2 separate regions of the Homo sapiens genome follow, and region 2 is linked to region 1. Evidence: fine-mapped expression QTL. Tissue or cell type: testis. Region 1 holds a variant in brackets; the other region holds the start of a gene. All regions are shown on one strand. Distances are from middle to middle.

Evidence for each region. PIP is the estimated chance that this variant, and not a neighbour inherited with it, causes the effect.
Region 2: ZNF594-DT starts here. The variant in region 1 is fine-mapped to the expression of ZNF594-DT in testis (GTEx, PIP above 0.99). The same link has a PIP of 0.9 or more in whole blood.

What each region holds. Positions count from the first base shown.
Region 1 is chr17:5,231,665-5,239,881 of GRCh38, reverse strand. It overlaps SCIMP (SLP adaptor and CSK interacting membrane protein), which reads left to right and starts at 5,022. Exons shown (of 5, transcript NM_207103.3): 1 at 5,022-5,147. The coding sequence starts at 5,127. It overlaps ZNF594-DT (ZNF594 divergent transcript), which reads right to left. Exons shown (of 6, transcript NR_152840.1): 6 at 3,879-4,768. RefSeq lists enhancers at 2,336-2,635, 4,581-4,780. The variant G/A (reference allele first, on the strand shown) is at 4,873.
Region 2 is chr17:5,189,136-5,196,094 of GRCh38, reverse strand. It overlaps ZNF594-DT (ZNF594 divergent transcript), which reads right to left and starts at 4,088. Exons shown (of 6, transcript NR_152840.1): 1 at 3,932-4,088. It overlaps ZNF594 (zinc finger protein 594), which reads left to right and starts at 4,227. Exons shown (of 2, transcript NM_032530.2): 1 at 4,227-4,347. RefSeq lists a silencer at 4,093-4,292.

The DNA of each region.
Region 1 (8,217 bases):
ACAATGGCTCGACCATGGGGTAGCCCATTCAGGGGACCTTCCACTGGCCAGGTTGGTCTTGAACTCGTGACCTCATGATCCACCCGCCTCGGCCTCCCAAAGTGCTGGAATTACAGGCGTGAGCCACCGCGTCCCGCCCAAAGCTGCATAATTTTTTATCCTCAAAAGTTAAGCAGCTTTCCTTCCCCTACAGTCAGTGTTATAAGTGAGTCACTAACGTCAGCCCACTTTTGAGTAGAGGGGACATAGATTCCCACAGCTCAATGGGAGGAGTGTCAAAAAAATGTATGAGCATATTTTAAAACCATTGCAAAGTATGTCATGGGGAGAGTGTCCAGAGGAGAGATGACTGAGTTGGGTTAAATTGCCAGGCCAGGCACAGTGGCTCATGTCTGTAATCCCAGCATTTCGGGAGGCCGAGGCGGTAAAATCTCTTGAGGCCAGGAGTTTGAGACCAGCTTGGGAAACATAGCGAGACCCCCATCTCTACAAAAAATTTAAAAATTAGCCAGGTGTGGTGGTGCATGCCTATGGTCCCAGCTACTTGGGAGGCTTAGGTGAGAGGATCGCTTGAGCCCAGGAGTTCGAGGCTGCGTTGGGCCACGACTGCACCACTGCACTCCAGCCTGAGTGACAGGGTGAGACCGTCTCAAAAATAAATGAATAAATAAATAAATTGCCAGGCCACAGAAAATGCTTAAGTATTACAACTGGTAAATCATAAGAGTTATGGTTGATGTGGCTCCCAGTCAGTTGAGTGGTAATGGGGCTGGTGGACTCATGTTTGGGAACGAAGAAGAGAGAAGGTTCAAGAGTGAGAACTGAAATCACTGCTGTCTCTCCATCCCTGTCCCAGGGGAAAATCCATTGCCCAGCCATTACCAGCTCCTTGAGACTGCCTGCATTTCTTGGCTCGAGACCCCTTCTTCGGATCTCCCCAGTCTCTTGCCTCTGCCAGCACATCCCCTGCCACTGACCCTGACTCTCCTGTATCCCTCTCAGAAGGATCTTGTGATTACATGGGGTCCATGTCGATAATCCTGCATGACTTCCCCACTTCAAAATCCTTAGTCATATCTGCAAAATCCCTTTCACCATCTAAAATAACATACTCATGGGTTCTGGGGTTTAGGGGCCCAATGCTCCTAGTACCTTTCATGGGAATCTTTACCTCCAGAAATGGGGAGAAGTGGGCAGGGACTCCCTTCATACACAAGACACGGCTGCCTCCTGCCACAACCCCAAATACTTATACACTTGCCTTTTTACATCTGAGCTGGAACGACCCCACCTCAATGTCATGGGGCCAGGGTGGGAGACAGAGGAGCTACAACATCTGCTTGGCTATTGTTAGGGACAAACAAAGCAGCCACGGTTGCTTAGTGATGACTTCTGGTTCCACCTGAGTGCTTTGGCCACCCATATTGCTCTCAGAGCTCTTTAAAGATGAGTTATTGTGCCCGGAGTGGTGGCTGATGCCTGTAATCCCAGGACTTTGGGAGGCTGAAGTGGACAGATCACCTGATGTTAGGAGTTCAAGACCAGCCACCTAACCAACATGGAGAAACCCCATCTCTACTAAAAGTACGAAATTAGCAGGGCATGGTGGCGCATGCCTGTAATCCCAGCTACTCTGGAGGCTGAGGCAGGAGAATTGCTTGAACCCAGGAGGTGGAGGTTGCAGTGAGCCAAGATCGCGCCATTGCACTCCAGTCTGGGCAATAAGGGCGAAACTCTGTCTCAAAAACAAAAACAAAAACAAACAAAAACCCCCACCTTTTTAAAAACTGCAATAAAATCTATTAATGTTCTAATTATATGTTGTATCTTATGATTTCTCTTTCTTCAGTTTTTTTCTCATGATGGGGATTAATTGACACTTGTGAGTGGCACAAAGAATAACACCTCATTTTACACATGACTTAGATGACTGAGTGAGAAGAAACAAAACGGCAGAAGCTGGGTGCCACCCGGATGTTGACAAAAAGGTTGAGTCATGAGATGAAGGGTGGACTGGAATCCCTTCTGAGTGTCCTCTAGCCTGATGGTCTCTGTAGCTTTAAGAGGTGAACATCTTGTGTGTCCAGCCATCCCTACGGGGAGGTCAGAGGGACCAGAATCCTGAGGAGAAAGCACCACAGGTGACCACTAGAGGGTGCCCTTCATTCTCCTTGACACCCTCTGGTCCAGCCGCTAATCTAGGGCCCTCAGGGACCTCTTTAGTTGCCCAGACCAGCAGGTGGCATTTCAGATGTGCAGAAAGAACACAACCGCCCCAACTTCCTGCCCTCCTCTTGTGGTGGAAAGACAAATGGTGGAGTCGGGGAAGAATGTAGATAGCAAGGAAGTGGGTAGATCCAGATGCCGTGGTGTGTGTCCCTAAACTTTGCTCTCAAGCCTCTGACTGCCCAACACATTCACTCTTGATCAGCCATGCAACCATCTCTTTCTCTCCAAATACTATGGCTGCTTTGTGTCTGTCCACATTCTGTCCATTTGGTGAGCTCCTACACATCCTTCAAGGCCCAGTTCAAATGCTACCACTCAGACCCTTTCTTCTCTCCCACTTTTGTGCTTCCACAGCACTAGCATTCATCACTTTGCATAGTAATAACTTATGTGCCTTCTGTCCTGTAGAACATGTGCCATGTGCTCTACCCATGAATGACTTGCCCAGTTCTGAGTCTCTACTTGTTGAGCACAGGGTCTGGCACAAATTGAAGGTCATTGTATTTAGCCTGCATCATATTATGGCTTCAACTTCCTCCTACACTTTGCGGGACTTTCTTGAAGGCAGATGGCAAAATCCCTGGAGCACTTTCATATTTGTCAATTGAATTCTTTCATTTTACAACAAGGAAACTGAGGCTCAGAGAAGGGAAGGATTCACAAAGAAAGTTTTGTCAAACCGGGCCTGGAATTCTGATCACCTGACACCTCAGGCTTGAACTTGCTGTGCAAAAGGCATTGTTAGAAATAGTAGGGCTACAGAGTTTACTATATCACAGCTGAACTGAGGTCCTTAAAGGTTAGCAAAATAATTTATTGAGTAATTTATTGAATGAATGAATGAAACACAAACCAAGAAGTCACAGCTTTGTTAGCCTAGGATGAGCTCTATCCACAGAAGCATTTATTCACCCCTCAGAAGAGAATTTTTTTTTTTTTTTTTTTTGAGACGGAGTGTTGCTCTGTCACCCCGGCTGGAGTGCAGTGGCTCGATCTCGGCTCACTGCAACCTCCGCCTCCCAGGTTCAAGCGATTCTTCTGCCTCAGCCTCCCAAGTAGCTGGGACTACAGGCACCTGCCACCATGCCTGGCTAATTTTTGTATTTTTAGTAGAGACGGGATTTCACCATGTTGGCCAGGCTGGTCTCAAACGCCTGACCTCATGATCCGCCTGCCTTGGCCTCCCAAAGTGCTGGGATTTCAGGCGTGAGCCACTGTGCCCGGCCTAGAAGAAAATTTTAAATTGGCTTTTAGGAAGGTTTTTTAGCAGCTAAACTTTGGATGAGCCTAAGAAGAAAGAGTTCAGGCCTTGGCCAGGTGCAGTGGCTCAACTCTGTAATCCCAGCACTTTGGGAGGCCGAGGCAGGTGGATCACTTGAGGTCAGGAGTTCGAGACCAGCCTGGCCAACATGGTGAAACCCTGTCTCTACTAAAAATACAAAGATTAGCCGGATGCGGTGGCACACACCTGTAGTCCCAGCTACTTGGGAGGCTGAGGCAGGAGAATTGCTTGAACCTGGGAGTCGGAGGTTGCAGTGTGCTGAGATTGAGCCACTGCACTCCAGCCTGGCGACAGAGTGAGACTGCATCTCAAAAAAAAAAAAAAAAAAGAAAGAAAGAAAGAAAAAGAAAAAAGAAATTAGTAAACACTGCAAATCAGGAATCTTCTGAGCCAGATGTTTTGTTTTGTTTGTTTGAGATAGAGTCTTGCTCTGTTGCCCAGGCTGGAGCGCAATGGTGTGATCTTGGCTCACTGCAACCTCCACCTCGCGGGTCCAAGCAATTCTCCCGCCTCAGCCTCCTGAGTAGCTGGGACTACCGGTTCACACCAAAATGCCCAGCTAATTTTTGTATTTTTAGTAGAGATGGGGTTTCACCATGTTGGCCAGGCTGGTCTCGAACTACTGACTTCAGGTGATCCACCCGCCTTGGCCTCCCAAAGTGCTGGGATTACAGGTGTGAGCCACCGCACCCAGCCAGAGCCCGGTGTTTGTTAAATTTACCAGACATATATCAGACATTATCAGATATTTATCAGACATATCTGGTTATCATTATTACTGAAATGGATAACAACTCATTCGCTCTGGGCAAATACAATGCACATCCGTTTGCCTATTTTTACTAATGTGACTGCTCATTTGAGTCAGAACCAGCCAATTCAACAAAATGGCTAATTGGTTTCCCCACTCCAACCCCCATGGTCAGAGGCCGTGGGCCTCGCTGGGAGTTCTGTCTCACAGTATTGCACGAGGGGACCCAACTCAGTCAAAATGCTCCACTGGCCACATTTCTCAAGGTCGCCACTCACACGCCTTTAGAAACAGGAAGCCTGTCCCTTGCCTCCTCCAAGCAGAAGATGTCTCAGCAGTTCCAAGGTGCACAGGAGCTTTCAAGAGTCACCTTCATGGTGAGATGGTGAGTTTGTCACACATGAGCTGGTTTCTTACCTGGATCTGTCTCTGCATGGGAGCTGGCGTCCTGTCGCTCTTCTTGAGACTGAGGTTGCCACATCCAGGAATGCTCACGGCAAACTCGTCTGTGGGGACACCAAACCCACCCCCACTGCCAAGTCTCCACCCTGGCCCCTGGCCCCTGCCAGGACCCCCTACCACACCATGAGGGTCCTCTGGTAGGCCTTGC[G/A]GGAGCGACACGGGGCAGTGAGAAGATTCTGGCTTCTGGACAGCCGTGGGTCATGAGCTTCCCTGGAAAAGGGATGGTTGCCTAGAGATGACGCCAGGGTCTCTGCCCCGTGGGCTGACTAGAAAGGGGAAGTGGTCAGGATGGGGCTCACTGTCTCTAGCAGTGGGTGAAGGCCTGTGAGTGAGGAATGCCTCTCACCAGCTGTGCCTGAGCTGCAGCACTCCAGCCACTGCTGTCTCCTTAGCTGCTCACATATGGATACTTTCACAGTTCAGGTAAGCATCTCAGCTTTCCAAGGGACAGTTTCCTGCTCTCTTCACAGCAGACATCTGCCAGCGCTGGCATCAGGGCGTGTCCCTGGGAGCCACCGATCAGCACTGGGCCAGGGGATTGCAGCCTGGGGCCCTGGTACGACTGCTGTGTAGGGTTGGAGAAAAACTTGCATTGAAGGATCTGCTCTACTGGTAACTGGCTGAGTGACCTGAGGCATCACTTCACCTCTCTGGGCCTTTTCCTCATGTGTATGTCAGGGGCGATGAAGAAGTCTACCTCTTGGATTGAAATGAGATAATGACCGGGAGTGAGAGGTCTCAACTGTAACGAGTTACTCTCACTTTCTGGATGCCGATGGTGTGTTTTGGGACTTGTTATGTGAGAAGACTGTCATGGTGCTATGCTGGAGGTGGGGGTGGGAGCGAGGCACTGACTGTGTCAATTTATTTATTTTTATTTTATTTTGAGATGGAGTTTCGCTCTTGTCGCCCAGGCTGGAGTGCAGTGACGTGATCTCGGCTCACTGCAACCACCGCCTCCCGGGTTCAAGCGATTCTCCTGCCTCAGCCTCCTGAGTAGCTGGGATTACAGGCACCCGCCACCACACCTGGCTAATTTCTGTATTTTTAGTAGAGACGGAGTTTCACCATGTTGGCCAGGCTGCTCTCGAACTCCTGACCTCAGGTGATCCGCCCGCCTCGGCCTCCCAAAGTGCTGGGATTACCGTAGCATGAATTTAGGCTACGTCTTGGGGCTCTTGGATGAAAGACCTGGATCACCTCCAGTCTTGGTACCTTTGTCATTGCATCTCTGGCTTTCAGTAGTTCATTAGGCACCTTCCCTTCCAGAGGCCTCGAGATCAAAGTGTGTTGGGCTGGCGTGAGTTCTCGGTGTAGCCATCTGCTTTTGCCCTCTGGAAAATTATTTTGAGAAGAGATCTGGGTTTGGCTTTGCCATATCCACTCCCACTGCCTGGTGTGTCCACTTGTCCCTGAGGTCTTGGCCATGAAGCAATGTGGAGCACAGGCTTCACTCTGCTTCAGTGGTAAATAACTACTGAGAGGCAGGCGGGGCATGGTGGCTCACGCCTCTAATCCCAGCACTTTGGGAGGCCAAGGTGGGCAGATCACAAGGTCAAGAGATCAAGACCAGCCTGGCCAACATGGTGAAACCCTGTCTCTACTACAAATACAAAAATTAGCTGGGCATGGTGGTGGGCGCCTATAGCCCCAGCTACTCGGGAAGCTGAGGCAGGAGAATCGTTTGAGCCCGGGAGGTGGAGGTTGCAGTGAGCCAAGATTATGTCACTGCACTCCAGCCTGGTGACAGAGCAAGACTCCATCTCAAAAACAAACAAACAAACTACTGAGAGGCTTAAAGCAAGGAAGGGACAGGGTCACACTGGTATTTGGCAGCCAGTGGGGAGCCCAGTGGGGGCTAGGGGCCAGCGAAAATGCAATGGTCCAGGTACAGAGATGAGGACTTGGACTACATTTGGAGGCTGATGGGCTGAAGCGGGGTGGGGATGGGGCCATGGGAGAAAGAGGAATGAGGCAAGGTTTCCGGTCTTTTCCAGAAGTGAAAGTATAGAGAAGGGAAGAAGAGAGGCTGGACTCCTTTTAATGACCCTGCCGTGCACTTCCCCATGCACACTTGGGTTTTAAGTTGCCAGTGACTATCCACATGGCCATTTCTGGTGCTGACATCAGTGAGAAGGACAAGTGGAGCGAGGCTCAGTGGCTCACGCCTGTAATCCCAGCACTTTGGGAGGCCGAGGCAGGTGGATCACTTGAGGTCAGGAGTTTGAGACCAGCCAGGCCAACATGGCAAAACCCCATCTCTACTAAAAATACACAAAAATTAGCCGGGTATGGTGGTGCGTGTCGGTAATCCCAGCTACTCAGGAGGCTGACACAGGAGAATAGCTTGAACCAGGAAGTAGAGGTTGCAGTGAGCTGAGATTGCACCAGTGGAGTCTAGCCTGGGTGACAGAGCAAGACGCCATCTCAAAAAAAAAAAAAGAAGAAGAACGAGTGGGAACAAGGCCTCACTTAGCATGAACAGCAACAGTCGGGGAATTAGAGGTGAACTGGGGCAAGAACTGCTCATGCCAACCGGCCTAAATGTTCTCTACAGCCTCTCAGACCCTCGAGATCTAGACTGAGATTAGTTCGAACCCTCATTCCAGGCCTGCCGAAGTCCAAAGCCCTCCCCAGGACTTCTGTGGACTCCCGAGGAGCCCACCTCTTTTTCCATGGTCAGCAATGGGCCTGCAGCCTCTGTGGGTAAAACTGTTTACACTGCGCTGTTTACACTGCACTGTTTGCACTGTTTATACTGTTTATACTGCACTGTTTATACTGCACTGTTTACACTGCACTGTTTATATTCCACCCCTTTCTTAGTCCCCCACACCCCTAGAACAAATCTGCTCACAAAAGAATTGGCAGATGCAGCAGACTTTACCAAAGACTCAGCGGGGGACCACCAGAGGGGCTTGTAACGCATCAGCGCAAACAACTGCACACAGAACATAACACGGCGCTGCTCTGAAAATGTCTTTGCCAGCCCATCCCTGAGCATTTTCTATCAGCTCCTCCTCTTGATACCAAATGAGGCCCATTCTGCTCATCGCACAGTAAGCCAATCACTGAGGTGACCAGTTTTTTTTTTTTGTTTTTGAGACGGAGTCTCGCTCTGTCGCCCAGGCTGGAGTGCAGTGGCGCAATCTCGGCTCACTGCAAGCTCCGCCTCCCGGGTTCACGCCATTCTCCTGCCTCAGCCTCCCGAGTAGCTGGGACTACAGGCGCCTGCCACCATGCCTGGCTAATTTTTTGTATTTTTTAAGTAGAGACAGGGTTTCATTGTGTTAGCCAGGATGGTCTTGATCTCCTGACCTCGTGATCCGCCCGCCTCAGCCTCCCAAAGTGCTGGGATTACAGGCGTGAGCCACCGCGTCCCGCCAAGATGACCAGTTTTGCAGCACAGAATGCATTTATTCATGAGGCAGCCAAGTGAGGAGATGGGAAAACAGGTCTCAAACCCACTTCCTCGAAGATGGGGTTTAGAGAC
Region 2 (6,959 bases), 43 kb after region 1:
GAGCTGTCCTGGCAAACCCTAGGAGGGATTTGTGGGAACCTCACTTTAGAGCCAGTTTGTCAGAAATACAGGTCACAGCCAAGAGTTTACAATTGGCATCTGAAGTGGGCAGTAGTCTTGTGGGACTGCGGGATCTAACACTATCTCCAGGTAGATAGTGTCAGATTGAATTGAATTAGAGGACAGCTATCTGGTGTCTGCTAGAGAATTGCTCAGTATGTGGAGAAAGCCCCCACCCATCTGGTGTCAGAAGTATTGTGTTGAGTGACCGCATAAGACAGTAAAGAGGGCCAGGCTCAGTGGCTCATGCCTGTAATCCCAGCACTTTGGGAGGTTGAGGCAGGCAGACCGTGAGGTCAAGAGATCGAGACCATCCTGGCCAACATGGTGAAACCCCGTCTCTACTAAAAATACAAAAATTAGCCAGGTGTGGTGGTGCGCGCCTGTAGTCCCAGCTACTCAGGAGGCTGAGGCAGGAGAATCGCTTGAACCCAGGAGGCAGAGGTTGCAGTGAGCTGAGATCACACCACTGCACTCCAGCCTGGTGACAGAGCAAGACTCTGTCTCAAATAAAATAAAATAAAATAAAATAAAATAAGCTCCAAGACCGGGCACGGTGGCTCACGCCTGAAATCCCAGCAGTTTGGGTTTGGGAGGCTGAGATGGGAGGATTGCTTGAGCCCAGGAGTTCAAGACTAGCCTGGGCAACATAGTGAGACTCAGTTTCTCCAAAAGTACAAACATTTTCTGGGTGTTGTGGTGTGCACCTGTGGTCTCAGCTACTTGGGATGCTGAGGTGGGAGGATTGTTTCAGCCTGGGAGTTTGAAGCTGCACTGACCTGTGATTGCACCGCCATACTCCAGCGTGGGCCACAGAGTGGAGCCTCCCATCTCAGTTAAAAAGAAAAGAAAAGAAAAGAAATCTGGTAGGCCAGGAGTGGTGGCAGGTTTGGCTCATGCTTGTAATCCCAGCACTCTGGGAGTCTAAGGTGACAGGATTGCTTGAAGCCAGGAGTTCCAGAACAGCCTGGTCGATCTAGGCAGACCCCATATCTACAAAAAACTAAAAACAAAATTAGCCAGGCATGGTGGCAGTACCTGTAGTCCCAGCCACTCAGAAGGCTGGAGGATCACTTGAGCCCAGGAGGATGAGGCTGCAGTGAGCTATGATCATGCCACTGACAGAGTGAGACCTTGTCTCTTAAAAAAAAAAAAAAAAAAAATCTGTCAGGGTTAGTTGTCGTCAGAACCATTTTACATGTGTACGAATGTTTTCTTGTAATTCTTATACTACTTTTAAAATAACAAAATAAAGTTTAAAAAAATTTATTTTAAGAACTGAGATCTGCATAAGCCAGAAAAATGAAAATGGGAGGCAGTGGGTGTGGGGAAGACAGCAGCTGCATTTTTTTATTGAGAAATATATAAGTCTTGCCAAAAGTGGTTATTTTGGCTTTTTAGTCTTAAAAAGAATAGCTCTTCTTTTTGATCTCCTTTAGAGTTCACATGCTACCCCTGACAGCAGCATGGATTCATTATGTAATTTATTCATTCTACAAATATGTATGGAGTGCTGGCTCTGTGCCGGGCACTGGTGATACAGTGAATGTTGAGGAAAACCCAAGGCACTCTCAGGGAACCTGAAGTCATGTGGAGCTCTTTTATGTCATGCATGTTATCCCTTTTCCTATCATGCATGTTACAAATATTTTCCCTTTTAATACTTTCACGATCTACACCACTTCTTTTTTCTTTTTTCTTTTCTTTTTTTTTGAGAAGAGTCTCGCTCTGTCACCCAGGGTGGAGTGCAGTGGCGCGATCTTGGCTCACTGCAACCTCCGCTTCTCCAATTCAAGCGATTCTCCTGCCTCAGACTCCCAGGTGGCTGAGACTACAAGCACGCACCACGACATCCAGATAATTTTATTTTTTTTTTGAGACGGAGTCTTGCTCTATCGCCCAGGCTGGAGTGCAGTGGCAAAATCTTGGCTTACTTAAGCTCTGCCTCCTGGGTTCACGCCACTCTCCCGCCTCAGCCTCCCTAGTAGCTGGGACTACAGGCTCATGCTGCCATGCGCGGCTAATTTTTTTTTATTTTTTTTATTTTTTAGTACAGACGGAGTTTCACCATGTTGGCCAGGCTGGTCTTGAACTCCTAACCTCAAGTGATCCACTCGCCTCAGCCTCCCAAAGTGCTAGGATTACAGGCATGAACCACCTCGCCCAGCCTGTACGATTTTTTTTAAACCCATTTATTTTATTTTATTTATTTGTTATACTTTAAGTTATAGGGTACATGTGCACAACGTGCAGGTTTGTTACATAGGTATACATGTGCCATGTTGGTTTGCTGCACCCATCAACTCGTCATTTACATTAGGTATTTCTCCTAATGCTATCCCTCCCCCAGCCCCCCACCCCCCACCAGCCCTGGTATGTGATGTTCCCCACCCTCTATCCATGTGTTCTCATTGTTCAACTCCCACTTATGAGTTCTAACTCATTTTTGCCTCCCAGAGGATCCCGGTGTCTTAGCTGTGGATCTCTCAATACTTGCAGGTCACAGGGCCACAGAGGCTGGGCCTCTAGGAGCAGAGGACACGGAACAGTCTATTTTTTTTTTTATTTTTTTGAGACAGTGTCTTGCTCTGTTGCCCAGGCTGGAGTGAAGTGGTTCCATCTCGGCTCACTGCAACCTCCACCTCCCGGGTTCAAGCTATTTTCCTGCCTCAGCCTCCCGAGTAGCTGGAACTACAGGCGCCTGCCATCATGCCAGTTAATTGTTTTGCATTTTTAGTAGAGACGGGGGTTTCACCATGCTGGCCAGGCTGGTCTTGAACTCCTGAGCTCAAGTGATGCGGCCTCCTAGGCCTCCCAAAGTGCTGGGATTACAGGTGTGAGCCACCGTGCCCTGCCTTAAAAACCCATTTCTAAATTCCAAAGAGTAACTTCTATTAGTGCACTCTTATTAAGAGAGGTAAAGCAAAAGGAACTATAAAAGCAACTATAATTGAAGTCTATTTGAGACATGGCTCAGTATTTCAATGAAAATGTAACACAGTCAATGAAATACTATCTCAAATGTAGTTGTGCAAATTAAGGAATAGTTGGTAGTAGCTGCATTTACAAATTCAAGAGTGAAACGTGCATAATTCGTGCAACCCAAAGTTTGGGACAGAGAGATATGAGAAGCCAAAGTGACTAGTGCACTGACAGTTTTGCTTCGGAAAGGCTTGGGGTTGGACATCTTACATCTTTACATACATATATAACCCTTACCACGATCCTACGCTACGCGAACCAACATCATCTCCATAGTAATAACTAATATGTATCTGGCCTTCGCCACATGCAAACTTCACATACATATGTCAGTGAGGTCGGTCCTATTATTTACCTCACTTTACAAATGAAGCAACGGAGGCGCGAAGAAGCTATTAATAGGTAACTTGTTCAAAGTCACATAGCCCCTAAGTGGTGGGGCAAGGATTCTGAGTGTCTGACTTTCTCACTTCGGAACTTACACTTTTAAACATTAAGCTGTCCTTGTTGGGATCTGTATCGCCTAGCCTTTGACCGGGCATTGCAAATAGAAGTCATCAATGAATGAGACCACAAATGCATGCAGGGAACAATAACAAAAGATGAAAACAGAACAGGCAGAACAGGAGTTCGAGACTAGCCTGGCCAACATGGCGAAACCCCGTCTCTACTAAAAATACAAAAATTAGCAGGGCGTGGTGGTGGGCGCCTGTAATCCCAACTACTGGGGAGGCCGAGGCAGGAGAATCGCTTGAACCTGGGAGATGGAGGCTGCAGTGAGCCGAGATCGCGCCATTGCACTCCGGCCTGGGCGAAAGAGCGAGACTCCATCTCAAAAACAAAACAAAAGGGCAGAACAAAAACGTAGTTACTTGAAGGGGTCACTCACCCCGGACCCGACCGTGCCACAGCCCCGACGCCACGCATGTCTAGGACCAGCTGAGGACGCGGCCTCTCGGCGGTAACCTTGGTAACCAGCCAGCGCGCCGCTGGCCCTCCGGAAGTCAGACTCCGCCGGGCTGAGCCGAGCTACGCCAGCGCCGACTGGCGTCGTGGAGGAGTCTGCGCAGAGGAGACACCTGATCCGGTGGGAGACGGCCAGGGGAGCGCGCGCGGATTGGCTGGAGCCGACGGGGGACGGCTGGGCGGGGCGCGGACTGGGGGACCGCAGTCCCGGGGAGCGCACCGGAAGTTCTCGCCTGGCCCAGGCGCGGGGTCCAAGATGGTGGCGCTAGGAGCCGCGACCCAGTGATAGCGGCCGTGGAGGGGCCCCCGACCGAGCGGGAGGTTGGGGGTAGCCTGGAGGTGAGACCCCGCTGCGTTCACAGAGCTGGCGGCCGCGGCGCCTGCGTCCACCGGCAAGCGAGGAGTGGAGCAGAGCTCATATGCCTATGGGGAGAGGCCTGGGGGACCGCAGGAGGATGTAGGCGCCGGGTGCGCATGACTGGGCCTTCTTGCTCTCGGTCGGCTTCTTGGTCTCGGCGTGCCCCATTCCCGGCCCTGTCCCGCTACTCTTGCCTGTTCCAGTTCCCTCCTGTGGGTACCGCTAACGGCATCTTCCCGAGGCCCAGAATCCACCGTCAGGCATAAATTGATTATTCCTCGCCCACATCTGTGCCAGGTATATTTGTATATGTAACCAAATCTGGTTTTTGCATCCCACGAGTGACCCCGCTGGGGAGGCTAGACTAAGCCACAGGAATGAACTGTATTGTTCATATATGTTCTACTACTCAGTCTAAAATATTAGGACTGTTAGAGTTCAAACAAGGGAGGGATTTAGGTGGGCTGGTCTCTTTGTAAGGGTCTACATTGCTTTTAGGAGCAGCTTCTATTGTGACCAAGCGAGTTACAGAGAAACGCCACACTTTGAGACAAATTAAAGAGTCCTTATTAGCCGGCAACCGAGAGGCAGCTAGCGCCCAAAATTTTCTCGGCCCTGAGGAAGGGGCTAGTTTTGTTTTTATACCGTGGTCTAAATAGGGGAGGGGGGATTTTAGCTGAAGCAATTTTTACAGAAGCAGAACTGGCAAAAAGTTGAAAAATTAATTGGTTACAAATGCAGTTACAAAATATAAACAGTTCCAATTGCACGGGCTTAAACTATCACAAAGAGATAAATGCAGGGGTTTTGCTTGCCATCCACCGAGCGCGTCCCCAGGAGCTGCTGGTGCAGCTTGCCTCAATATCTTATCAGTAGGTGCATTCCTGGACGTGCTTTGAGTCAGTTTACACTAGCTATGCCTTAAGGGAGGGAGGTGAAAGGGGGCTGCCAGTGGAGAAACTAAAATGGAGTCTGTCCGGCTCTCTCTCTGCTAGGAGAGAGTCACTCAGGTTAAAACAAAGTAGGGTATCACACTTCAAAAGTCATTTCTTTTGGGAAGCCTTCCCGGATTGCCACCGCAGCGCTTTTAGCATCTAATTCATAGGCTCTTACTACCTTGTTTCATGTGTGAGTCTTCCTCTAGGCATAGATTCTTTGTTTAGCTTCACCTAATGCGTGCCCATGAATGTGAATTAAAAAGGATTGACATAGTTAAAAGATACTAAGAACTGGGCATGAAATAGTGGCATTTCTTAAGTTAAAAAATAGTGGCCCCTAGGCCAGCTTTGAGTGTAGACACATTTTCTTGGCTCATGCTGTTTGTTTTTATTTGAATTAATGGCCAACTTCCTTTTTTTTCTTAAGACAGAGTCTCGCTCTGTCAACAGACTAGAGTGCAGTGGTGCGATCTCGGCTCACTGCAACCTCCGCCTCCCAGGTTCAAGCGATTCTCCTGCCTCAGCCTTCCGAGTAGCTGGGACTACAGGCATGTGCCACCACGCCCAGCTAATTTTGTATTTTTAGTAGACACAGGATTTCTCTCCATGTTGGTCAGGCTGGTCTCGAACTCCCAACCTCTGGTACTCTGCCTGCCTCAGCCTCCCAAAGTGCTGGAATTACAGGTGTGAGCCACTGCGCCCGGCCTGTGTTTGCTCTTTTCTTTAGGAACACTAATTATATGTATTTGATTATCTTTCTTTAGTTACTGGTTTTCTCTGTAATCACATTTGTATTCATTTCATTTTTTATTATTTCTCCAGGCCTCATTGTGACCTTGTAGTGATTATTTTTGTTGTTCCTTATGTGAATTTCATCTACATAATGCTTTTTATTTGCCCTTCCATTTCTTTCCTCAGCATTGTCAAATCACTTCTCACTACTTTTTATTGTTTTCTAATCTAATTTGTTTTTGGCCAGGCATGGTGGCTCATGTCTGTAATCTCAGCACTTTGGGAGGCTGAAGAATCCCTTGAGGCCAGGAGTTTGAGACCTGCCTGGGCAACATAGCAAGACCTTTTCTCTACAAAAAAATTATTTAAACTAGCTGGGTATGGTGGTGTGCCTATGGTGTCAGGCTGAAGTGGGAGGATTGCTTGAGCCCAGGAGTTTGAGGTTGCAGTGAGCTATGATTGCACCACTGCACTCCAGCCTGGGTGACAGAATGAGAGCATGTATGAAAAAAACAAAACAAGCTGGGCACAGTGGCTCACGCCTGTAATGCTAGCACTTTGGGAGGCTGAGGCAGGAAGATCCCTTGAGGCCAGGAGTTCCAGAACACCCTGGACAACACGGCAAGCCCCATCTCTACAAAAACTTAGCCATGTGTGCTGCAGCATGCCTGTAATCCCAGCTACTTGGGAGGCTGAGGTGGGAGAATCATCTCAGCCTGGGAGGTCAAGGCTGCAGTGAACCATGATTACACCACTGCACTCCAGCCTGGGTGACAGAGACCCTGTCTCCAAAAAAAAAAGTGAAAAAAAAATGGCCTGGCACAGTGGCTCACACCTATAACCCCAGCACTTTGGGAGGCCAAGGTGGGAGGATCACTTGAAGCCAGGAGTTCAAGACCAGCCTGGGCAGTATACTGAGGCCC